Linked DNA regions of Homo sapiens. The protein of the gene in region 1 interacts with the protein of each later gene in a pairwise test. Each region holds a gene or a part of one and is shown in the gene's direction. Other genes may lie near its edges.

The links.
Region 2: the proteins of FAM98A (region 1) and RTRAF interact in binary tests that used the Homo sapiens proteins (3 or more experiments, as listed by UniProt).

The regions. Positions count from the first base shown.
Region 1 is NC_000002.12:33,587,658-33,599,858, reverse strand, and holds the start of FAM98A (protein FAM98A), read left to right. Parts: upstream 1-559; 5' UTR 560-637; coding exon 638-690; intron 691-4,221; coding exon 4,222-4,370; intron 4,371-7,644; coding exon 7,645-7,779; intron 7,780-11,339; coding exon 11,340-11,524; intron 11,525-12,201. UniProt on the Homo sapiens protein: Positively stimulates PRMT1-induced protein arginine methylation. Involved in skeletal homeostasis. Positively regulates lysosome peripheral distribution and ruffled border formation in osteoclasts.
Region 2 is NC_000014.9:51,980,072-51,993,228, forward strand, and holds the start of RTRAF (RNA transcription, translation and transport factor protein), read left to right. Parts: upstream 1-9,474; 5' UTR 9,475-9,568; coding exon 9,569-9,629; intron 9,630-10,447; exon of another isoform or gene 10,448-10,513; intron 10,514-11,245; coding exon 11,246-11,370; intron 11,371-13,157. UniProt on the Homo sapiens protein: RNA-binding protein involved in modulation of mRNA transcription by Polymerase II. Component of the tRNA-splicing ligase complex and is required for tRNA ligation.

The DNA.
Region 1 (12,201 bases):
CTGCGGAAAGTTGGCTCATCCCTAACCCTGAAATAAAGCTACTGCAGCCACGAGGAAATCAAATGGCACGCTATCTGCCGTCTGCACTTGGCCCGCACCCGCGTCCTGAAGACGGGAGCGCAAGAATTCTCCCTTTCTACATGACCTGCAAGCTAAGGCTAGCACATGCCGGCACCCTACGAAGAGCCACCCGATCTCCTGTCTGGGATGCAGAGACTCGGTTTAACAGCCGACTCCACCCGCGTCCCGAGACTCTTCCAAGCTCCTTCCCGGCCCGCCGCGCCCCCTACATTCGCACATGCGTACACCCAATAACGAGAGCCGAGAGCGCTCCCCTTCGCGTGGTCCCCACGCCCAGCTGCCACGCAGCCGGTCCTCCTACCCTTCTCTGGGCGGCTAGCTTCACGATCCAGTAACGCGCATGTGCAAAACTGCGGGCCCTGTAATTCTTTAGTGGGCAGGGGTGGGGCGGTCAGTGGGACCAAGTTTCTTGCGCACGCTCCGGACATGCGCAGTGCGGGAGCTGAGGCGCCAGCTGTGGATTTGGAAGTTCCGGGGAAGTCGCGCATGCGCGAGTGTACGCGTTGCCGGCGAAGAGGGGAGCCTGACGACTCGGAAATTTGAATACCACAGTAGCATGGAGTGTGACCTCATGGAGACTGACATCTTGGAGTCGTTGGAAGATCTAGGGTAAGATTGTCAGGGCACGGGTCTCCCAAGCCCCACGCTGCCGGCCCCCTGGGAACACCTCCTGCGCCCCAGTCTGAGACACCTGCCTCTCCACGCCGCACCCCGTGGCTCCTGGCTGTCGCTTCCCTTTGGCCCCGGCACCCCCAATGCCACGTCCACTGTCTGCACTGCTAGCTCGGGGTCCTCCAATCCCAACACCCCTAGGCCTGCCCAGTGCTCCCTGCAGGCGAGCTACCCGCAGCGTTTGTCAGTCATGCGTGTCATTGTCTGGGCTCTGATTTTCGCCACCCCCACTCCCCGAGCTTCTCTCCTCGCTTCATCCTCCTGCCCTACCCCTTAACCCCTCAACTCTAAAGGTTGCCAAAGTTGATTCTGCTTTCCTACTTGTTCTCCAAATTTCCTACTCCCATCTTGAGCCCCTCCTCCTACCCCACCCCACTTCTCTCAAAATTTCTCCTTTGCCCAGTCATCTCTGCATGCACCCAGGCTTCGCTAAGCCACTTGTATGGGCGCTGCATCTGTTCCGCTGGCCAGCTCGCTTGTGCATCTAACCTATCACCACGTCCCTGGGAACCACCAGCAGTTTGCTTTGACTCTGTGATACTCTGCCTCGTTGAGCCCCATTAGACCAGGGTCGTCTTCACCCACGAAGAACCTGCGTATTTGTTTTGCATTGTGTCTCTCCTTCTCCTGATATTTATTCAACCATAATTCATCAGTATCTAGAAGCTGGAAATAGGGTTTGTTATCTCACTGGGTCACCCAGATCAGTGTACTCTATTAAACTTGAGAACGTGGACCCTCTTGGGCTAAATGTGGTTCCAGAAACAAATTGTATGGTTAGATACTTACCTACAGGTACGGTATCAAAACAAAGTACAGATTTAGCTAGCTGTATTTCTAAGTAACAAGTTCTTTATCAAAATTTTCTCTTAGGTTTTTCCATGACAAGGAAACCTTTGAGAGAAACCTTTCTTTAGGAAAAAACACCTTGAGGATTCCCAAAGTCTGCCTATTTGAATAATTTACTACCCTAGTAGAAATTTTTAGGAACGAAGTAGTCTTGCTTATCATCTGTCTTTGTCACAGTGAAATACTATTGTTCTTTTCTTGGAAACTTGCTCTGAATTTTTATAAATATTCCAGACTTTAGGGGGCTTCTTTCTTTCATTAGGGCATATGTTAAAGTCATTCAGCAAAATAGTCTCTTTAGTTGACATCTCAGACTGAATCGCTTGTTCACACATGAAACCATTCATTCATTAGGACTTTTTTAGGAACAGTTTCTTTGTGGCAGTGTTAGGCCCTTAGAGTACAAGGTGAGGTGGAAGAGGGGTTCACAGGATACTGGGAAAATATGCTGTGAGGAGCCCTGAGGAGGGTCCCTTTACTGGGAAAGGAAATGAAATCCTAGAAGCTTCTTTCTGGAATAAATGACACTATAGTACTGTAGTGGAATGAGTGGAATGAAAGGAAGGGGGTAGACCTTATTAAATGTAGTCTTTCTGCATGGATAGTGGTCACTTAAGAATTGGCCACGGATGCTGTTTCTTCCCATTATTGTCTTTTTTTTTCCCCCTCCTTTTTTTAACTTTTTATTCTTTTGGGTACTGTACAAGTAATTGTTACTGTAGTAATTGTAATCACATAACTACTTGACATAGAGTGTAATGTAAACCATGGATTTTCTGAAAACTGTTATAAATTTTAACCTTAACTACTTAGTTTGGTGGCATTCAAATATTAAAAGTCAGCCTTAATTAACTGAAATGTACTTTTAAAGGATTAACTGAGAAATATTAGAATTAAATGACTACCTTTTCTATTTATTTATTTATTAAGAGATGAGGTCTTGCTCTGGTGACCAGGCTGGTCTCGAACTCCTAGCCTCAAGCGATCCTCCCACTTCAGGCTCCGGAGTAGCTGGGACTACAGGTGTATGCCACTGATCCTGGCAAATAGTCATCTTTTATCTCTTACCTGGCACACAGTAGGAATTCAGTAACTACTTGTTGAATAAACTAATGAAGTCTAAATGTGAAACTCAAGGAGAAACTTCTAGGCCTAGTCTTTTGATTTCAGTGTCTAATAATACATAGTTTATAAATCTAGATGCCAGACTACATGTGATCTCATTTTTTTATGTATGATTTGTTTTCATTTTGTTGCATATACTGTATAAACCTATAATCATATTTTAAAGGGTTTGAGAACTGTCATTTCTCTAACATACCTGTAGTTCTCAACATTATATTATCTTTTTTTTTTTTTTTTTTTGATACGGAGTCTTGCTCTGTCGCCCAGGCTGGAGTGCAGTAGTGCGATCTCGGCTAACTGCAAGCTCTGCCTCCTGGATTCAAGCCATTCTCCTGCCTCAGCCTCCTGAGTAGCTGAGACTACAGGCGCCCTCCACCATGCCTGGTTAATTTTTTTGTATTTTTATTAGAGATGGGGTTTCATCGTGTTAGCCAGGATCGTCTTGGTCTCCTGACCTCGTGATCCACCTGCCTCGGCCTCCCAAAGTGCTGGGATTACAGGCGTGAGCCACCACGCCTGGCCTAAACATTATATTATCTTAAGCATATTTATTGTATCATCTTAAGTAAGCATTATTATCAATATTTAAGAGAATGTAAAGCAATCTGAATAATATGTATTTAAGATTACTTGGAGTGACAGAAATCTTATATTTTAGAATATTGGTGATTGGAGTTCATTATGACTGTCATCTTTTATGAATGTTTGAACATTTTTAAATTTTTTAAAATTATATTGGAATCACTTACAAAGGATTAGGATTCAGATGCGCCAGTTCATTAACTGCCAATATTTATTAACCTAACCTGACGTTTCTTTGGTACTAGAATGTCTTACTAGTCTTAACTGGCATTAAATTTATAAAAATGATATAAATGGTTAACTGGAAAGTTTTTACTTTTAAAGGAAGTCATTAAAAACCTAACTAAGCCTGGGCAACATAGTAAGACCCCTGGCTATTTTATAAAAAATAAAAAAAAAGCCAGGTTTGGTGGCTTGTGCCTTCACTGCACTTCAGCCTATGTGACAGTGCAAGACCTCATCTCAAAATAAAAACATAATCTAGTTGTTTTCTGGAAAATTTTTAGAAAAGATAACCTAAGTTTTATTTCTGAAATAAGTTACAGTATAATTAGCTATTACTTGTTAATTTGCTTTTAATACTCAATTCAATTACAGTAAGAAAATAAATCTTTTTACAATGGAAGCTTTTAGTAAATGTACAGAAGTTGACATAATTTAGTAGTATATGCAATTCTGTTAGATATTCACCTACATTTTGAAAGGTTGAAATGCAGCTACCATTTAGCTGCTTTTTGTAATGGTTCAGTATAGTTCTAAATTATGTTTATATTTGTCCATTTAAAATAAAGATAAGTACTAACTTATCTTTATTAAATTATTGCTTATATAAATAAGACATAGATATGTTTTATCTGTAATATATTAGGTATGATTGTATTTTCTTCTGAAATGTAATTTCTTGCTCACCAGTTACAAGGGCCCATTGTTGGAAGATGGAGCGCTCTCTCAGGCAGTCTCTGCTGGAGCCAGTTCCCCCGAGTTTACCAAACTCTGTGCTTGGCTGGTGTCTGAATTAAGAGTGCTCTGTAAACTAGAGGAAAACGTGCAAGCAACTAACAGTAAGTAAACATTCACTTTTAGGTACAAAGTATAAAAATAACATTGAGGTATTGTCAACTGAACATTATCAATACTAAAGCTGAAAGTTGCAAGTTTTTGTAAATGTAAAAAATTTGTAAAGAAGCCAAGATTTTTTTTCCGTCCGTTGTTTTTAGAGGTGATTCAGAAGTTGAAATACCAGAATAAAGTCATGTAACTTAAAAATTCGTGGATGCTGAAAAGACCCTATTACTGGGATACAGAGAAATGGAGACCACAAGCATAGAATGTATGAACTTCCTATATTTTGTAAGATGTTAAATGTAAGATCCTAGATTGATGGCTAGAACTAGATACTGGGATATTTTTCTTTTAGGATTACCAGATTCTAGAAGCATCTATAGCATGTAGAGTAAATGCATTATTATTCTGTTATGCTTGGGGAGAAAGAGAACACTTTGTTAAGACATTTTGTTTATCATAAGAATGCATCGTTAGATACATCACAGTGAGATCCAGGACAATCAAATTTATGGATCTGAGAGCTGTTCTGCATTTACCAATTTTGTTTCCACTGTTGCACTAGTTTGTCGACACTGCAAAAGAGGCAAAAGCTTGGAACCTACCACTCTACCATCTGGTTCCTTCCTGCTGTAGGTAAACCTATAATAGGAGACCAAGGAAAATACTCACCTGTTAACCCACCCTTATGGAGAGCTATACATATAATTCCTTTTTTTCCACATAATCACGTTTTGAAGAGCTCACCTTCTTGCATGCTAGTGTGTGTGTGTGTGTGTGTATATATATATGTGTATATATATGTGTGTATATATATATGTGTATATATATGTGTGTATATATATATGTGTATATATATGTGTGTATATATATATGTGTGTATGTATGTGTGTGTGTGTGTGTGTGTGTGTATATATATATATATAATTTTTTTTTTTTTTTTTTTTTTTTTAACTTTATGTTCCGGGATACATGTGTAGAACATGCAGGTTTGTTACATAGGGATACGTGTGCCATGGTGGTTTGCTACACCTATTGACCTGTCCTCTGAGTTCCCTCTCCTCACCCTCTAACCCGCAACAGGCCCTGGTGTGTGTTGTTCCCCTCCCTGTGTCCATGTGTTCTCATTTTTTAACTCCCACTTAGTGGTGAGAACATGTGGTGTTTTTTTTCTGTTCCTGTGTTAGTTTGTGGAGGATGATGGCTTGCATGCTGGTATATTTAATGTGTACGTGTTAGTTGCATTCAGTTCTAATTATTAAGGAGAGTATAGTGTAACAGTAATGATAGCAACAGCTTACATTTATTGTGTACTCACTATGTTCTAAACACTTTATATGTGTTAACTCATTAAACCTCAGGGCAACCCTATGAGGCAGGTTTTATTACTGTTATACCTTTAACAAGAAAGCCCAGAGAATTTAAATACATTGCCTGAGGTCATACAACCTGTAGGGGTGAAGCCTGGTTTCAACCCCAGAACAGTAGTCAAGTTCTGAGCCAGTGTGCTTGAACACTGTGCTATACTGCCTCTTGACCAGATGTTTGAGAGACTGTAGGAACCTTTGAAAACACCAGTACTAGATGATACCTCTATTTAACCTGGAGCCCCTTTTTCTCAAATGAAACATGATACAGAAGCTAACATGTAAAACAGGTTAGAAGGTATTCTAACAAAGTAGAGACGAGGTACCTTTAGCCCAGCTCTTTCCTCCTCATCCTCCCAGCTGCCTCTAAAAGAGCTCTGTGGAACTCAAGGGCTCACAGATCACAGTTTGCAAAATATTCATAATGTAGGCTTCCTGTATTACAGATTAGAAAATGGACTCAGGTGATCAAGTGACTCTCTCAGAGTTTGTTAATTTCTTCCCCTTTGTGATAGTGAATAGAGAACAATCAAAATAATGAAGAAAGAGCTTTGTTTTTCCTTTGGTTCACCCAGTGAACTCTATACCTTTTTTTATATGCTGTGGGAATACAAGACTGTAAGTCATGTTTGCTGTCTTCAAATTTTTTCTAATTGAGAATGTTAGGCACAAATTAAACAACTGGAGATAAGTACAGTCCTTTTGTTTGTTTGTTTTTAGACAAGATCTCACTCTGTCACCCAGGCTGAAGTGCAGTGGCGCGATCTGGGCTCACTGCAACCTCTGCCTCCCAGGTTCAAGCAATTCTCCAGGTCAGCCTCCTTAGTAGCTGGGACTACAGGCATGTGCCACGACAACTGGCTGATTTTTGTTATTTTTCTTAGAGACGGGGTTTTGCCACGTTACTCAGGCTGGTCTCGAACTCCTGAACTCAAACCATCCACTCGTCTCGGCCTTCCAAAGTGCTGGAATTACAGGCATGAGCCACCGTGCCCGGCCAAGTACAGTACTTAAATGCTGAACCACTTTGTGGTTCACAGAGAGAGGAAATCAGCAAGTACGAGGGTGAAGTTTCAGCCAAGTACAAGGAAGGTTTCATCAAGGAGCAAGGCCACTGGGCTTTGATGGATGGGTGGGATTTGCTAGAGGGGAAGAGAGTAGAGGACATATCTGTCACAGGGAATAACTTAAATGAAGGCACAGAGTGGAAATAAGACTGGCTATTCATGGGACAGTGAGGAGACTGGCCTGGCACACACAGGAAATATTTGTGGAGGGAATGTAGGTGATTATAGCTGAATATGCTAGGAAGAACAAACCTAAGCAGCTATGAAGAATCTTTAAAAGCAGACAGAAAAAAATCAGATTGGATGAGGGAGAAATTAGGGAACCATTAAAGACTCCCAAATAAGAGAATGACCTAATGAACACTGAGAAAGAAAATTTTAGATTGGGAGCAGTGGCTCATGCCTGTAGTAATCCCAGCACTTGAAGACGCCAAGGTGGGAAGATAACTTGAGGCCAGGAGTTTGACACTAACCTAGACAACATACTGAGACCTAGTCTCTACAAAAGAATTTTCTAAATATTAGCCAGGCATGGTAGCATACACCTGTAGGCCCAGCTATTCCGGAGACTTAAACAGGAGGATCCTTCAAGCCCAGGGGTTTGAGGTTACAGTAAGCCCTGATCACACCACTGCACTCCAGCCTAGGCCTCAGAGACCTTATCTCAAAAAAGAAAAAAAAAGAAGAAACTTTGCAGTGGTGTAAGAAAGGATAAATTAGAAGGGGAAAAAACTCAAGTTATGAAAATCCTATTAACAATTTCAATTATATATAATAATTGTTATGCTAATGGAAAAATAATCACTATCATTAAATAAGATTATTTTAATTCTTAAAAGGTCCGAGTGAAGCTGAAGAATTCCAGCTTGAGGTGAGTGGGCTACTAGGGGAGATGAACTGCCCGTATCTTTCACTGACATCTGGGGATGTGACCAAGCGCCTTCTCATTCAGAAGAACTGCCTCCTCTTGCTCAGTAAGTTCATGGCTACTAGAATATAGCTATTACTTTCTGTTTATGTTTTCCATGACTAATAAACTGACCATGGTTTTTTGTTTGTTTATTTCATTATGAATGTAATTCAAAATTCATTTTAAAATAAAACTTTCTTAAATTTCCAATTTAGGAGCTGAGGGTAGACGTGTGCACTGGTAGCATTATTGTTTTTGTAACTGATACTCTTTCAATATTTCAGCCTCAGTGGTACTCAGGCCGTTGTGCTTCTCCTAATGTGATCACTGGTAGTTTTGGAGTGTTGCTCAAGTGTGTGATCATTAAACTTACATTTTAGACTAGAAGCACATTTTTAAGTATATTAGGAAGATAGTATGGAAATAATGGAGATTTTGTTTAGAAATTCATTTCTTTGAGGAGAGTAAGCATTTATAATAGTAGATACAGTTAATGGTTAATGTAATTTAAAGTATTTTGTCTTGTTGCTATTTCTTTGTGGTTGGGTAATTGGGGATTTTGGTTTTGTTTGTAAATATTCTGGAATAATACTTGCATTGTTCTGGTACTTATTCTGAGAAATGAGTTTTTATGAAAAGTTCTTTCCTTCCATGTTTTTTACATACTTACTACTGTTTTGTCTCTTCACACTGAAAAACAGTAAGTAGATTCAAAAATTTTATTGCCTTCTATAAACTTTCCAATAAATACAACCTATAGTCTTAACTCAGAATTTATGTAGCATTCTGAAGCACATTTACATTAAGCTTTGGTTAACTGGCTATTATAGTTCTCATTATGACAGACAATTCAGAGGATTTTTAAAATCTTTGTTTTTACAACTCTATTATGGTTTCTGAAAAAATTATACAACTTCAGTTTTTAAGGTTCTGTTAAAAAAAAAAAAAGTGTTCATAGCCATTATACTTAGGCACTAAGTTATTCCAGAATCACTTTTGTAACTTCCCCTTTGTCTGTCAAATGATTGTTATTGTGGGAATGTGCACGTAAGGTTAGGTGTTGCTTTAGATACTGATATTGCTGCTGGTAGTTCTTACATATTCATTTAATATTCTTCATATTGTACAATTTCTGTAACTGATTCAATAGCAGTATACTCAGCTGATTCTTCCTTTATAGCATTGCTTATCCTTTACCAATATTTGGCACTTAGAATATGTTATCTACATAGGAAGATAATAGCTGTGTGGAATGCTTACTAATGACCCTGAATAGCTAATTCTTCCAAAGAGCTCAGAGTTTGGCCTTTTTAGCACTGATACTTATACAAACCACTTGAATGTAAGTATAAAATGCCTTTCACACTTTTCTGTTTCTTAAGCAGACTTCAGTGAACATTATTTTGGACTCAGGGTCATAATTCTAGACTTTATTTTAATCTGCTATCATCACCTCAAATGCTTTTCAAGAATATACCACTATTTGCTCTTCAATTAAATGACTAAATCATCTAGAGGTCACTCACTTTTTATATTCTTCATACATACATATATACACACTGTTTCCCTCTTTATCTTTGCTTCTGCCGATTCTCCCTTTCTAAAATATTCTCCCCAGTTTGTAACCTCTCTTTCATTCTAGCATTTACCTACATGTACTCATTTTTGACTTGGTCTATGTAAATATTTCTCATCTTTTGAAGTATCAGTTGTCACATCTGGATGCTATAATTTTACTTTTCCAGCACCCTTACCTCACTAACTTGAATCTTTTATCACATTGTATTTTAGGGGGGAAAACAAACCAGCCTCATTAGAATTGTTGGAAAAATAGAATAGCCTTTGAGTGAGAGGCTGAAAAGCTCTCATGTATCAGATTAAGGACTCTGTTTGGCTCTTCATTGGCCTTTTATGGTTCTCAGAGTGTTGCCCTTACGTAAATTAAGTAAGATGTCTGAGTTCCTAATAGATGAAGAACTATTCATCTTTTATTTTTGCATATACTCTTTATTCCTAACTAGATTATCGGAAGAGGTCATCTTTTTGATGTTTTAAAAAATGTTATCTTCAGTGCCTTTCCCAGTGCTTTGAACATACTGATTACGATTAAAGTTTTTTCATGATAATTATATTGGTAACCTAATTTTGTGAATACCTGAACTATGTTATCCCAAATTTACAGAACCAATATATTAAATCATATAGTATATGATTTTCTAGAACAAGAGTTGGCAAACTTTTTCTAAAAGGGCCAGATAGTAAATATTTTTGGCTTTGTGGCCCTAAGTTCTCTGTCACAACTACATACCTTTGCTGTTACAGCATGAAAGCAGCCATAGACAATATATAAATGAGTGAGTGTGGCAGTGTCCTAATGAAACCTTATGTACAAAAACAGTGGTTGTTGTCTTAACAGTGGGGTTTTACTGTTTTGACGTTTTAACTCATAAATACAGTTTGCTGTATGGAACATGTTAAGATTTTACAGTGTCAAATCCATTTAGAATGACCTTTCCAGAAACTTAGCTGTATTTATTGTTTTAGAACAGGAGTTGGCAGCCTTTCAGAAATGATTTGCCAAAATTATGGCCTCTGTCCTTCTAGCATTACATTTTGGGTATAGGAAATTTGATACACAAGTTGACTTTTTTCTACTTCTAATAGGACCTGAGGGCCTTGAAAATATCTTTTCCCAAAACTGGTTTTGTTATATTGTCAGAAGAATCTCACTTTGTCACATAACCAGAAATCCTAAGATTCAAATGATTCTTAATCATCTTTTATAAAAATTGAAATGTCCTTGGGAATGTTAAAGGAATGAGATTGAATATTTATACCTTCAACTGAATTACCTGAAACAGATTGCAGCCCCCATTATACCAGGCTGAAATCAGCACACAAGGGGATGATACTGACACAAAGGGAACCATGCCAAAAAGTGCTTTGAAGGTTTTATGGTTGTTTTGAAGGGAATGGGGTGAGGAAAGTAGGGGGAAGGGAGTCCTGAGAAGAATATAGATGAAAGAGGGCTCTCTTTGATTAGCCAGAGGGCAACATAAGATTTGGAGACCATGGGAAAGGAGCTCTGGGGTGCCTTCCTGCTTCTCCTGTGAGTTAAGCTTTGACTTCTTATAAATGTTGTTTCACACCTCTTCTGGACAGGCTCCTAATTAATGGGAGACAAGAGAGCAAGGTAGTTGTGTCATTGATGCTCACAAGTAGTGAGAAGTTAAAAAAAAAAAATTAATTGTCATTAAAAATTGGTCACCTGCCTTCTTTTGCAAAATTTTTAACAGATGCCAACCCCTGTTCTGGAGGTTCCTTAATACCAGAATTCAAGATTCCAAATTTTTAGATGTTACTTACCTCGATCCTTCGGTTTCAAAGAGAATCGCTTATTTTAAAATTAACATTTAAACATTATATATCGCTTAAATAACTGAATTACATAACCAGTTTATTTCTTATTTCATTTGCAGGTAAAAGTAGTTTTTCTTTCTTGTTTTTATCCATTCTTGCAGCTTTAACAGTTACATATCAATAGGTCTATATAGTTGTGACTCCAGACTTATGACTATAACTATAGCTGTATCTCATTTTGAAATCTTATTTTGTTTACTTCAGCATACCTCATCTCAGAACTAGAAGCTGCCAGAATGCTCTGTGTGAATGCTCCTCCAAAAAAAGCTCAAGAAGGAGGCGGTAGTGAGGTCTTTCAAGAGTTGAAAGGCATATGTATTGCTCTAGGAATGTCCAAACCTCCAGCCAATATAACTATGTTCCAATTCTTCAGCGGGATTGAAAAAAAAGTAAGACCTTTAGTACCAAATTGTAGTGTATTAAAGGCATAGTCCTACATTTGTTTGAAATGAAGCAATTAATTTAATTTCTCTTAATGGGAACCTAATGTGCATATATTATTAAGTAATTGTTACGAAATGAGTTTTGGGTTTTAAATCCTAGATGCCTTAAAGATAAATTAGTATTTTAGTATTTTCCTAAAAACATGTTAGCATGTTTCTTTTTCAAAAAGGAAACTTTACACTGGTTTGTAAGCTAAAGTAAGCTAGATATAATGTAAAAAGGATTAAGATTTCAGTCCTTTTAAAAATTATTTTATCATTGAACTTTGATACAGTCAATTTAAGTTCTTTATCACTAAATGTTACCACCCTCCTCCCCATTGACTGGACAGAAAGGATATTAATATTTTTGTTTTTTAATCCAGTCACTTCAAACCTCATGCTTCAATTGACAAAATAGATTTGTTGACTGCTAACATAATCTAGTATGTGAAAAGAAATTAGAATTATTTTTATACCACACATTATCAGTTAAGATTTTCTATATAATTAATTAGGAACAAGCAATTTTAACAAAAATGAGTAGAAGAGAACGGTATTTGTTAAAGCACAGTTATTCCCTATACGCTTATCTGCTGGACTCTTAAGAATTGGTACATTTGCATTGTGGGGTAGACCAGCAC
Region 2 (13,157 bases), on another chromosome or scaffold:
TTGTTAGGGGTGACTGGAAGTGTGTTTATACCTCTTTCAGTATGTTTGGACATGGCAGCTCTGCAGCTATAAGGTAGTCCACTAGGAAAAGGGATGATCTTTCTAGGCTGCTACGATACTGGTTTGACATGAGCATCTATGTTAGGCTGGAAGGTGCAAAGTGAATGAGAGACAGACCCTTGGGATCCTGCCCCAGCTGGGGAGGAGCTCTGCAGAGGCCCACATTAAAAAGCTACTGAAGGTGCACAGTGGACAGTGCCCAGGCTTGGTTGGATGTGGGGAAAAGTCAGGGAAACCTGCACATGGTTGAAGTCAAAACTGAGATTCAAAGGGTGATGGGAACTCACTAGGCTGGGAAAGGATCAAGGGAAATGCAAGAGAACAAGGGGGTTTATTGTGGAGGGTGAAATATTGACTTTTAGCCATGTTGGCTGTGAGGTAGAGAATGGGGCTAGCCCAAGAAATGCAAAATTGGAGCTTCTCTGAGAGGTGGGGATTGAACAAGTGGGTTTATACTCATGTTTAGGCAGGGAGAAAGAGGAAGGCATGGAAAATCCCTGGAAAAGCTAAAATAACCAAAGGAAAGAGCATAAATCAAGAGTAGAGGTACACACCCCCAAGGGAAAACTGTGATGCTTATGCTGCAGCATCAGTGGCTGATGAAAGCTGGCCAGCTTCAATGTTCCTATGCTTCTCTCTCTAGGGCCAGAGATTGTCAGAGGAGCCAGAAAACTATCTTGGGACATGAGCTTGTCCCAACGTCTCGGGGCCACCTGCCCAGTGGAGAGGGCCATGGACAACACAGAGGAATGTGCTTGAGAAAGGAAGGAAAAGAACTCCCCCACCTCACAGAGTAGGACCGAGGAGGACAGAGAAGGTAATTAGTTTTTGTGGAACAGAGGATTTGGCCTATTTCTTACTCCGAATTTAGTCAACTCAATGCCCGAAAGGTTGGGAAACAGGAGTGGGAAAGAAATTGTTCCAAATGAAGGCTGCCTCTCGGGGGATCCTGCTGTGCAGGCTGCAGAAGCAGGGGTCTGCCTGGGCTGTTGCTAAGGTCTCAGGGGTTGAGCAGAAACAAATGAATGGTCCTGAAGGGAGGAAGGACAGAGCAGTGGCCCAGGAATGGGCCCAAGTTAGGAATTCGTGTGTAGAAGTCAGCACAATGAAACCCACAAAGTTCTCTGCGACAGCTGTTCTCAATCTTGAGCACATCAGAGTCACCTGTAGGGCTTGTTAAAACACAGATTGCTGGCCCAACCCTATGGCTTCAGATTCAGTAAGCCTGGGCTGGGGCTGGAGAATGTGCAATTCTAACAAGTTTCAGGTGATGCTGTTGCTGCCACTCAAGGGACCAGCACTGAGAACCATTGGTCTATGAGATCCCCAAAAGGAGTTGCTGTGGTTTGAACATCCTCCAGAAGTTCATGTGTTGAAAGCATGCTGCAGTGCAGAGAGGTGGGTCCATGTTTGCCATCCTTTAGGTAAGCAGATGAGGCTGAGCTGCCCAGCTTCACAGGCCACACTGTGGCAGAGGATCAGTGTCCCCCGGGCTCCTGAGGCGATGGAGCTCTTGTCACTTGGATAGTGTGGGAGCAGTGGGAGTTTCCTGTATGACTAAGAGCAGTACAGCCCTGACACAGAGAACCTGTAAACCTGTGCACCAAGAACCAAAGAGTGGATAGAGATGAGAATGGCCCAGGGGACACCAATGTGGGTCTACAAGGACGTGGAAGTGATCTGCTAACTACCACTCATTCCTTGGCATGTCAGAAGTACCCCCAAATTTAGGCACAACTCCTGAAAAAGGAGATCATAATGGATTCATCACAGATTGACGGTGATTTAACTTATAAATTGTGTGGAAAAGAAGTTCAAATCAGAAATTAGGTTCCCATGTGTGGTCTGTTTTGTATTACTTCCCTTAGCAATGCCTGGAATGAATGAACAGCCTAGGACAGACTTTACTTCCCAGGGTGCTATCAAAGACTGCCCATCTCCAGGAGATCCATACTTTTTTTAAAAACCAAATTCCAACTATTTCCTAACTGTGAGGAAAGGGTGTGAAAATGGCAGCAGCTTTAGAAACATACTCCACTGAGCTCTAAAGTCTGAGGCTGCCGGAAAGTTGGGCTCATTGGGGAAATAGCTCAAACCCTCATTAACAATCTAAATTATTTATTCCTACCTAGTCATTAGTGGGACCAATGAGGTCAGGTCTCAGGTTCCACCAATGCCACTAGGGAAACTCTACGTGATTACAGCTGGAAAGGGAAGGATGACAGAGATTTCTTTTCCCTAGCATTTGCTAACACCCACACCCAGCACTGAATATTAGATACCGAGCACTAAATTCCCAGGAGGCTGCTGCTCTTACTCGCCAACGCTAAAGTAGGAATGACCCAGCAAACATGAGAAATAAAGAGAAACAAGGTGTTCAAGTAGAAATGGGTATAAAGAGCAAAATTTTTCCCTTTATTATCAAACCTCAATATAGTAGCATATTTACAATATTTTCCAGGGAGCTTTTTAAAAGAAAAGATGTATAAAGAAACTATTGTGCTTTTTCTGAGCCTAGGACAGGAATTGAGGCCAGAATCTCACTGGAAAATTGAAAAATCTCTTTGAATTAAAAGAGTCACAGTGGTGGAGCTGGGAAGTATATGTCTTGTCTGCTAGCAGCTATATTCCTCCCTTTCTTTCTCATGCACTTTTTCTCTCAGGCTTAGAATTTGTTTTTCTATAATTGAAAAATGATCCATGCGGCTGTTCAGCTCTTCCAGCAATGCTGAGTTGTAAACGGGAGGTACGAAGGTGAATAGTTCATACGGATGAGTCTCAATCACCCACAATAATGGCTGAAAAGAGAGTAAAGTGTAATTTGCAAAGGATAATCCCCCCAATCCATTATGCTACACCAGACAATGCAACAGCTTCTGACATTCACCGTTCCCACTCACCTCACCACTGCGATGGCTTCCTAAACTGGTCTCCCAGCTTCTCACTCTCCACCAGCTCCCTTGTATTCTCCACACAGTACCCAGAAAGATCTTACAACCCAAGCCACAGCTTGTCACTCCTGCTTAAAACCTTCAGTGGCTTTCTGATGCACATGGAATAAAGTCCATACTCCACACCATGGCCTCCCTCCTCACTTAACAACAGTACACCCAACCCCCGGCTCACCACCCTCCTACCTCCCTGATCTTCCTTCAGTTTCACAGAAGCAAACCCTTGCTGACAAGGGGCCTTTGTGCTCATGCTTTTGTTCATGCTCTGCCCTTTCCCCATTGGGAAATCCGGTAATAGCTCATATTTGATAGCTGGCTTAGATGTAACCTCCTCCATGAGGCCTCCTCTGACCACCCTATCTAACGTAGGTCCCTTTCTGTTTACCTCCATCTCCTTTGCCTTGCTGTTTCCTGCCTCCCTGTTGGGCTGTAACCTCCATGAAGGGGAGGATCATGTCTGTCTTCATCATTATATCCTGAGTGTCCACCATGGTACATAGCACATGCTGAATGAATGAATGAATGTTCTCCACCCTCGCTCTTTACCCAGGTCGGACATCCTCCTTAACTGACTCATTGTGAGCTACCTAGGCCTTTAGATGTTGATATAGTTTGGATGTTGTCCCCGCCCAAGTTTCACGTTGAATTGTAATCCTCAGTGTTGGAGGTGGGGTCTGATAGGAGGCCACTGAATCATAAGGGCAAATTTCTCATGGATGCTTTAGCACTATCTCCTTGGTACCGTCCTCATGACAGTGGAGTGAGTTCTCACGAGATCAGGTCATTTAAGTGTGTTCCACCTCCCCACTCTCTCTCTTTCTTGCTCCTGTTCTGGCCATGGGACACGCCTGCTCCCACTTCCCCTTCTGCCATGATTGTAAGTTTCCTGAGGCCTCTCCAGAAGCCTAGCAGATGCCAGCACCATGCTTCCTGTACATGCAGAACCGTGAGCTAATTAAACCTTCTTTTTTTTATAAATTACCCAATCTCAACTATTTTTATAGCAATGTGTGAGTGGCCTAATACGTATGTCATGAACACACAATAGTTGTGTCAGACTTTGAAGTAGAAGATAGAATATCTTGTATTCTTCATCAAAAGAGACTTTTACTTAAAATGTTCACAGGTCTGAGAGCCATGGCAGGATCAGGGCAAATCTGTAGGAGTTCACCATCCCCTGCCCCTTCTTCAGCTGGCAGGCTGAACTCAGTGCTGTGGTTTTGGAACCCTGGCAAGTCTGAACCTAAAGTAAAGCGTGCTGTTTGGCACTCAGCTGTCAAGACAATACCTTCTACAAGTTGGTCAAAGGATTTCTGAGGAATGAGATTTCCCAGCCCTCTAAGGTCCCTGCAGTAGCAGCCCCTAATTCCTAGCATCTTGGAGAAAGACTAGTTCTCAAGAATTTGAAACAAAGGGAAAGGTCAGGCCTTTGCAGGCATCTCAGTTAGCAGCTCTGCCTGGTGGGGGTCACTGAGGTACTAGGGAAAGGGAAGAGAGAACAGGAATATGCATGGGAGATCTGTAAAGTAGGTGATCTAAATTTGACTGTATGCTGGTCAATATCATATGACACCATAACCTCTGCCTTATTCATTACCGGCTTTCAAGCATTCAGAGGTGGCTTTTCTGTCACTTTTGGGGGAAGAATCCACATAATCCTATCACCCAAATGTTGATCCCTGTTACTCTGCCCCCAACCCTGCCTCCCTAAACCCCTTCCTCTCCACGTTTTAGGACGCTGTATATTCCTTGTTCTCTTAGTCCTTCCAACCACTTTTCCCATATTCCATGACTCTTCCTCCTACTCCTTAAATATGAATACTGGGTTTTCCTAGGATGAAGTCTTCAGTCCTCTTTTCTTTCCCCGTCTCCTCAGGGACCTTACTGTAACAGTTTCCATCTACAACTTTATGCTGATGGCTCCTCAATGGACATCTCATCCACTCACTCACATTCATTCCTGACATTTCAGTAGTGATTATGGGCTACATCTACAGGACTTCGATTTCAACAGGTGCAGAACTTAATTCTTCAGCTTCCTCAGACTGGTTTCCTTCTACCGGTGCTCCTGTTTCTATGCAAGAATTCACTGCTTATCACATCTCTGATAGGTGACCTTCTAGAAACCTCCTTTAAGCCATCCACCTCCTTCCCATCCTATGTTTAGTCCCACCAAGTCCGTGGATCTTTCTTTCCTTTCTCTCTGGGATCTGTCCTCATGTTAGAACTATTCAGTTGTAAGTTACAAAACCCCAACCAAATCTGGCTCAAGTATAAAATAGATTTTATTGGATCACATCTCAGGAAAGTTGCATCTAGCCCCCTACCAGACATTTTTGGGAATGGCCTGTCTGTGCTTCTTGGCTGTATTGTCCTCTGTGTTGTTTTCACTGTTCGGCAAGTGTTTCCTCTGCAGTATTAGATGTGGAAGGTGAATGCTTTATGCTGTTTGCATGACTACATAAATTCCTATTCATTCCTATTCGTTTTCTACCAATAAAATTGAGTTCTACTGCCCTGCCATTTTGCTTTTAATGCTAAATCATGAAATTCCAGAGCTTGACCTTAAAAAGCAGCAAGTTTTCATATTTAACATAAAGAGTCTCAGAAAGAGATAAAGGAGATGTTTGCTCATCGGGAGGCTCCCCCAGGGAGAGAGACCTTTCTGCATTATACAACTTGTTCCAAAAATTCTGATTTCATGGGGTGTTCAATTGATAACATTCATTAGAATATAAAACCTGTTTTTCTGTGCACTGTAGAGACTTTTGTGGCTATTCCTGGTTATTACCAACTTGTTCTGTTCACTGTTTTCGGAAGACTAATTTGAACAAAGGCTTCTAGTAAAACTGCCAAGACTTTAAAAGTTGTTACAAGTTGTGAAACTGTCCTTCAAAGAGCAACTTTTACCTCTGACTGGTTGCCTTTCTTGATAATGTGTTGCCCTGGCAATACCGTTGAAATGGCCACCTCTACATTTCTGCAACCATATATGCCCTTGCAAATATTTTAGGTTTTGTGAGTCATGTGGTCTATGTTGCATTTATTCAACTCTGCCCTTGTAGCACCAAAGCAGCCAGTTAGCAAATGGGCATGGCTGTGTTCCAATACAACTTTATTTATGTACACTGAAATTTGAATTTTATATAGCTTTCACATGTCATAAAATATTATTATTCTTTTGATTTTTCAACCATTTAAAAATATAAAAACCATTCTTATCTTGGTTTTTTTTTTTTTGAGTACTCCATCTAGAAATCTCTTTCCCCAGATATTTGTGTGGCTAACTTCCTTACCTCCTTCTAGGCTTTCCTTACACTTCACTGTCTCAATGAGGCCCAACCTGACCATCTTGTCTAAAACTGCAACACCCATTATATCCCCACCGCTATTTGTTGCCCCCCTTACCTTGTTATAATTTTCCTATAGTACTTAGAACCTTCTGAATAGTAAATAATGTATTTATTTATTATTGTACTGTTTGTCTTCCCTTGCCCAATGATAAGCTCCCTGAGGTCAGGGTTGTTGTGTTTAAGCTCTCAGATGACTCCAAAATGCCTACAAGATTGCCTGGCATGTAATTGACACTCTAAACACTTTACTGAACAATTCAACAGATGAATTAATAGCCTGTCAAACCTATGATCAACCATTAGATTGGAGTTCAGGTCATTTGATAATAAAAGTTGATTTCCAGATCCTTCCACCAAAAAGACACATGCATTCTCATGTTCATTGCAGCACTGTTCACAATAGCAAAGACGTGGAATCAACCTAGATGCCCATCAGAGGCTGACTGGATAAAGAAAATATGGTACATATACCCCATGGAATACTATGCAGCCATAAAAAGAACAAATATTATGTCCAAATTTGCAGCAATATGGATGCAGCTGGAGGCCGTTATCCTAAGCAAATTAACACAGGAACAGACAACCAAATACCACAGGTTCTCACTTATAAGTGGGAGCTAAACACTGGGTACTTATGAAAACACACACACACAAAAGTTGGTTTCCTTTTCTTGAAGTATACAGAGGGCTTGGTCTTCAGAAATGGAATTATGTAAGATTCACTTACTGTTGGACACTCCATTCAGAATAGGTCAAAGAACTCCTTCAAATTCAGAGAAAAAAAAAGATAACTGGGTTTTAACATAAAAAATGGATTAATATTTATTTTATACTTCTTTCCCAAAGTTTGCTTTATCCCCTGCTCAAGTATCCCCTGACACTTTAGCATTCTGCATCATCTGAATCTTCCTCCAACCTCCCCACTCCTGGTGGTGGCCGGGGCTGATGACTAGGGACAGTCTTAAGTTGCTGACAATGGGGACCCTGAAGTGGAAAGACTAGGCCAGGAGCAAACAACTTCATTTTTTGCCTTGAAAGGTCAATTTCAGAAAACAAATGGTAAGAGATGTTTTTCCTTATTTTTTTAAAGAAATTCATGGTCTGCAATTGTATTTTTCCCCCTTTTTAATTTATTATTTATATGTAAGTATTTATTATTTTCCCTTCCATGATTGGTTCATTTTTTCATTTTTTGGTTAGTATTTCATTAATTATACAACTAGCATGCACTACAATATGAGATTATAGCCATATCTTTGATCAAATTTTGTTGGAAATGAGACACTCTTGAACTGATTTTCTTGATTCACTCTATAAGCACCTTAATTGAAAAATACAGATTATCTTACAGTGCCCCCTTAAAACTAAAGCTGTATTCTAGCCTCTGTACTTCTTTTTATTATTATTATTTTTGAGATGGGGTCTTACATGTTGCACAGGTTGGTGTGATCATGGCTCACTGCAGCCTCAACCTTGCAGGCTCAAGTGATCCTCCCACCTCAGCCTCCTGAGTAGCTGGGTCCACAGGCACACACGAGCATGCCAGGCTAATTTTTCTTTCTTCTTTTTTTTTTTTTTTTAGTTTTAATAGAGACAAAGTCTCACTATGTTGCCTAGGCTGGTCTCAAACTCCTGGGCTTGAACTATCCTCCCACCTCAGCCTCCCAAAGTGCTGGGACTACAGGCATGAGCTTCTGCACCTGGCCTGTACTTCTTTGTAGTACATTTTATATTTCTTGTAATTCACTTACTCTTTCTAACTCCAGATTATAAGTATTTATTTACACATCTATATTTGTCATTATACTTAAACTTCCTGAAAATAGAGACTGTAGTTTACTCATTTGTATGCTCCTCAGATCCTAAGTGTTTAATTAAAATCTTAATTAATGAAATGAAATGAAACGTACATAGTTGGCTTACCCCCAAGAATTTCAATAGCTCCCCTTAGCTTGCCATGAGAGGCTTTTCCTTATCAGAGCCCTGCCTTTGTCTATAGTCTTATCAGCTGTCATTCCCTCTCACCCTCCAGCCCCTATAAGCTCTAGTCCCTCTGGGCCATGCTGTTGCTCATTTCTTGCCTTTATACATCCTCTTCCCTCAAACTAGGTTACCCTTTTGACTGCATGGTGAATGCCTCACCATCTTCAAGCCTTAGTTTATACTTATCTGTTTATTGTTTCCCTCATTAGCCTTTTAAACTCCATGAAAATAGGGGCCTGGTCTGTCTTGTTCACTGCTCTCTCTCCACTGTCTGAAAAGCAAGTAGAGACTGGATCAGGAAAGATCTTAAATACAATAAGGAGTTTTGATTATTTCTAGGGGGTAACCAGGAACCACTAAAACATAAGCAGAGAAAGTTATGTACAGGTTTTTGCTTTAGAAAAATCTCTCTCATCGCTGTATGGAGGAATGGTTTGGAGAACGCAGGACTGGCCCTAAGAAATCAATCAGATAATTAGAGTAAGCAAAAGTGATGAGGATCTGATCTGTGGCTGTATCAGTGGGGTCCGAAAGGAGGTGAGGGATTTGAGAGTTAGGAGAGACAGAATGGCAGGAATTGGTGACCTACTGGATGCTGTGACCGAGGGTGAGGGGGAGTGAGGGACGATCTCGGCTTCAGATTTCACTCTGGCTGAGGATATCTGGAACGATCGCATCGTATTAACAATTGTATGTTTACCTGTGGATCACTCCCAATTAGTCTGAAAGCATCTTACTATAGGGACCTTGCTTTGTAGTCTTTGTATTACCAGTGTTAGAAGAGCACCTGTTATGTAGGAGGAGTAATAAAATGAATGAATGCACTCAAAACACTAAACAGTAATTCTGTAATCCAACGGGAGGTACAGCGAATACCAAAAGCCTACATATACTATTCTCTGCATGCTATAGCAAGAAAGAAAGGAAAGTGGCTTCCCGGTGGTTTTCTGCCTATTGTACAACCAGGAAGCTGACAATAAAGTTTATTTGAGCGTCGACGTGCGCCGACGTGGCCCCGCCTCCCCAGCCGGAGCCGCGATTGGTGGGCATTTGCCGGCGGCCACCGCTTTTAAGCCACGATTGGCGAAGGCCGCCGTCATTTCGGAGCGACTCAGCGCCTGCCCGCCCTCTCGCCGCGTCGCCGGTGCCTGCGCCTCCCGCTCCACCTCGCTTCTTCTCTCCCGGCCGAGGCCCGGGGGACCAGAGCGAGAAGCGGGGACCATGTTCCGACGCAAGTTGACGGCTCTCGACTACCACAACCCCGCCGGCTTCAACTGCAAAGGTGAGGCGGCGGCCTCAGCCCGGCCGCGTGTCCCTGACCTGGGCGGAGGTCCCAGCCTCAGTGCCCGCACCCCACCTCCCCGTCGGGACCCTCGGCGGCCTGGTTTCCGCCGGCAGCCTCCGGGCCCCTCTCCTCTGGGTCGCCACGTACCTCGGCTCTTCGCCGCCCCTTCCCGCCTTTAAAGCCCTCTCACCTACTCCTGTCTCGGCATGTTACTTTCTGCACTTGCTTAACTCCAAGCATCACGTAACTACCTTCTCTGTACATAAAAGGGAGAGCATTCGTCTTTCTCACTCACTATTCAACTCCATGGTTCCCTGGGTAATTAGGCGATACCTTGAGCACCTGCTAATTATGGGCCAGCGCGGTGCTGGATTCTGAGGAAGGTGCTGAGTAACTTGAAGACTAGTTCACTGCCTGCCAGGAGCTAAAGGGACGAGGGGTGGAAGCAATCAGAACCCACTGAGCAGTTTGAGACAGTACACAATGAAATCAGGACCGATCACAGTGGGAGGGTAAGCGCGTGTAGTAACGGGCTAGTTGTGTTATGTGGTGTTGCAAAAAAGTTAATAGCAGATGAGTGGGAAGGTTGAATTGTGAATACAAAGGTATTTGGGATTTTACAGCATTAGAATTTTAAAAAGTAATAACGTTGCTACTCACTGTAACTAAACTGCTACCCACCACTACTCGTTTCCTTTGTATAGTTGTGGCCTGTGATAGACTGGTAAGTTTGAAAGTGATCAAGTATAACTTGTGATACTCAGACCACTGTGTAATTCTCAAGACCTTATAATGGAAGCTTGAATTTGACTCACAAATTGAAAATAATTTCTAAGCAGGATGACAGTGTTTTGTTGATCGCCTGTAGAAGCATATCAAATTATAATCTATTGTTTTTCTACTTTAACAAAAAAGTATCAGTGACAATAGAGCCTTGTTCTGGATTGGAATCTTTGAGTCTCAATGTTCTTATCTGTAAAATGGGATATTACCTACCTCAAAAGAGGTATGGGGAGGATTAAACGAAACAATTATGCACTTAATGTGCAGTTAACATTCCATGACAACAGTTGTCACAGTGTCTTTTTTGTCATTTAATTTCTTTTACTTATTATTTTGTTGTATATTTTACTTTATTACTTTGCTATAAATTTAACCTTGCCCTCCTTCCCCTTTCTGTCCGCAAAGGAACTGGAATATTAATATGTAACACTTAAATAGCAAAACTATGTGCCAGGCACTGTTTTTATCCGTATTTATTTTATTTAAGAAACTTCTTAAATAAAACAACTTCTTTTAATCTTCATAACTCTATGAGGTAAGTTCTATTAGCACCCTCATTTTGTAGCTGAAGAGTCTGAGGCACAGAAAATGTGGGTGATTATCCCAAGTTCACACAACCAGTAAGTATCTGGACCCAGGATTTGAACAGATCATTGTTAATCTGTACTTTCAACTCCAGAATCTGTACTTTCAACTCCCTCTTTTGGTTCAATTAATTTAGTATTTTGAAGTTAAGAAAATTCCACAAGAACATATATCTGAACATATACCTGAGAAGGAGGTATTTTATGTAGTGCTTCTAGTTATTTATGTGATATTTTTTATTGCAGATGAAACAGAATTTAGAAACTTCATCGTTTGGCTTGAAGACCAGAAAATCAGGCACTACAAGATTGAAGACAGAGGGAATTTAAGAAACATCCACAGCAGCGACTGGCCCAAGTTCTTTGAAAAGGTAATGAATTAGGAAGTAAAGTAAAAATACAGAGAGTTTGTCTGAAAAATCATGAAGATGAGCTTAAAATTACTTTCTTCTTTTAAGAAAAAAATGATAATGATCAGTGTTAGGAAAGCTGGATTTCAGGGATTTTGCTTTTTTCTTAGATGTGTCTTTTGCTTTTAGAGCAAATTATTTTATGTCTTCCTACCAAGCTTTCAGTATTAGGTAGAAATAGTTTTCTCTAGAAACATGAAGTTTCTTAAATAAATAATGATGTAAATATTTCGCTTTCCCTTTATGGCCCAAATCAGAATTTTTGTTAAACACAGTACTATTTCTTATATTAAAAGAAGACATTGGCTAGGTGTGATGGCTAACACCTATAATGCCAGCACTTTGGGAGGCTGAGGTGGCAGATCATTTGAGCTCAGGAGTTCTGACAGCAGCCTGGGCAACATGATGAAACCCTGTCTCTACAAGAAAATAGAAAGTTATCTGGGTGTGCTGGCCTGTGTCTGTAGTGTCAGCTAATTGGGAGGCTGAGGTTCTCCAGCCTGGGCGACAGAGTGACACCTTGTCTCAAAAAAAGACATTATTGAGATGCTTGAAAACCAAGACTGTCGTGTTTATGCTTATATTTAATGTAAACAGATATCCCTTGTTGTATGCTAGGGAAATAGTCCTTAAATGATCTCTGGTATATCATATTTTTGTGCCTTGAATCATTTTCCCATTGATTTAGTTTTAGTAACACTTTTGCATAAAAAAGAATTCTCAGATTAGAATAAAAATGCTTTTAGTGTCATTTCTTACATTAAACATTTTCATCAGTTATATTTGATGAGTGAGATATTTTTCTTGAAAAAGGCTAAGTTTTTCATTTGCGAGAGCAGTGTGATTAGGCACTTTCTCCCTAGAATCAGTGATTTTATAAATTAGGGATTGTATAAATTACATCATTGTTATTAACCTTTCCGTGTCTCAATTTTTTCATCAATAAGTGAGGGTAACAATGATACCTATCTCATAAGTGTGGCTTTGTTTTTAATGAGTAATTGTTCACAGAAGTCCCTGGCGCATAGCAAGTGTGATAAGCTTATTACTGCCAATGCCTCTATACTACTACTATTAATACTACTGTATTCTTTTCCTTTGCTCTTAGAAAATATTTTTAAAATTTTCAGTGGACTTCTTAAAACTTTGAAATATATTTTTAGGATTTTATGTTTGTTTATATTACATTTTATGGTCTATTCATGTGTACAAGACAGTACAGAATTCTGCATGTAGAAAGGTATCTGGAGAATATAAAAAATTGTCTAGGCTGGGCACGGTGGCTCATGCCTATAATCCAAGCAGTTTGGGAAGCCAAGATGGGTGGATCACCTGAGGTCAGGGGTTCGAGACCAGCCGGGCCAACGTGGCGAAACCCCGTCTCTACTAAAAACACAAAATTAGCCAGGTGTGGTGGCGCATGTGTGTAATCTCAGCTGCCCAGGGGGCTGAGCCAGGAGAATCATTTGAACTCAGGAGGCGGAGGTTGCAGTGAGCCAAGATTGTGCCATTGCACTCCAGCCTGGGCAACAGAACAAGACTCTGTCTCAAAAAAAAGAAATATGTATGTATGTGTGTGTATATATGTACATATACACACACGTATTTCTGATGTGAAACACCTGGAATGACAGTAAGAATAATTTCAACATATCAGAACCTAAACAGTTATTATCCTTCAAGTTGATTTTATTATAATCTTATATTACATATAATTAATGTTACATATAATACTATTATATGCAACA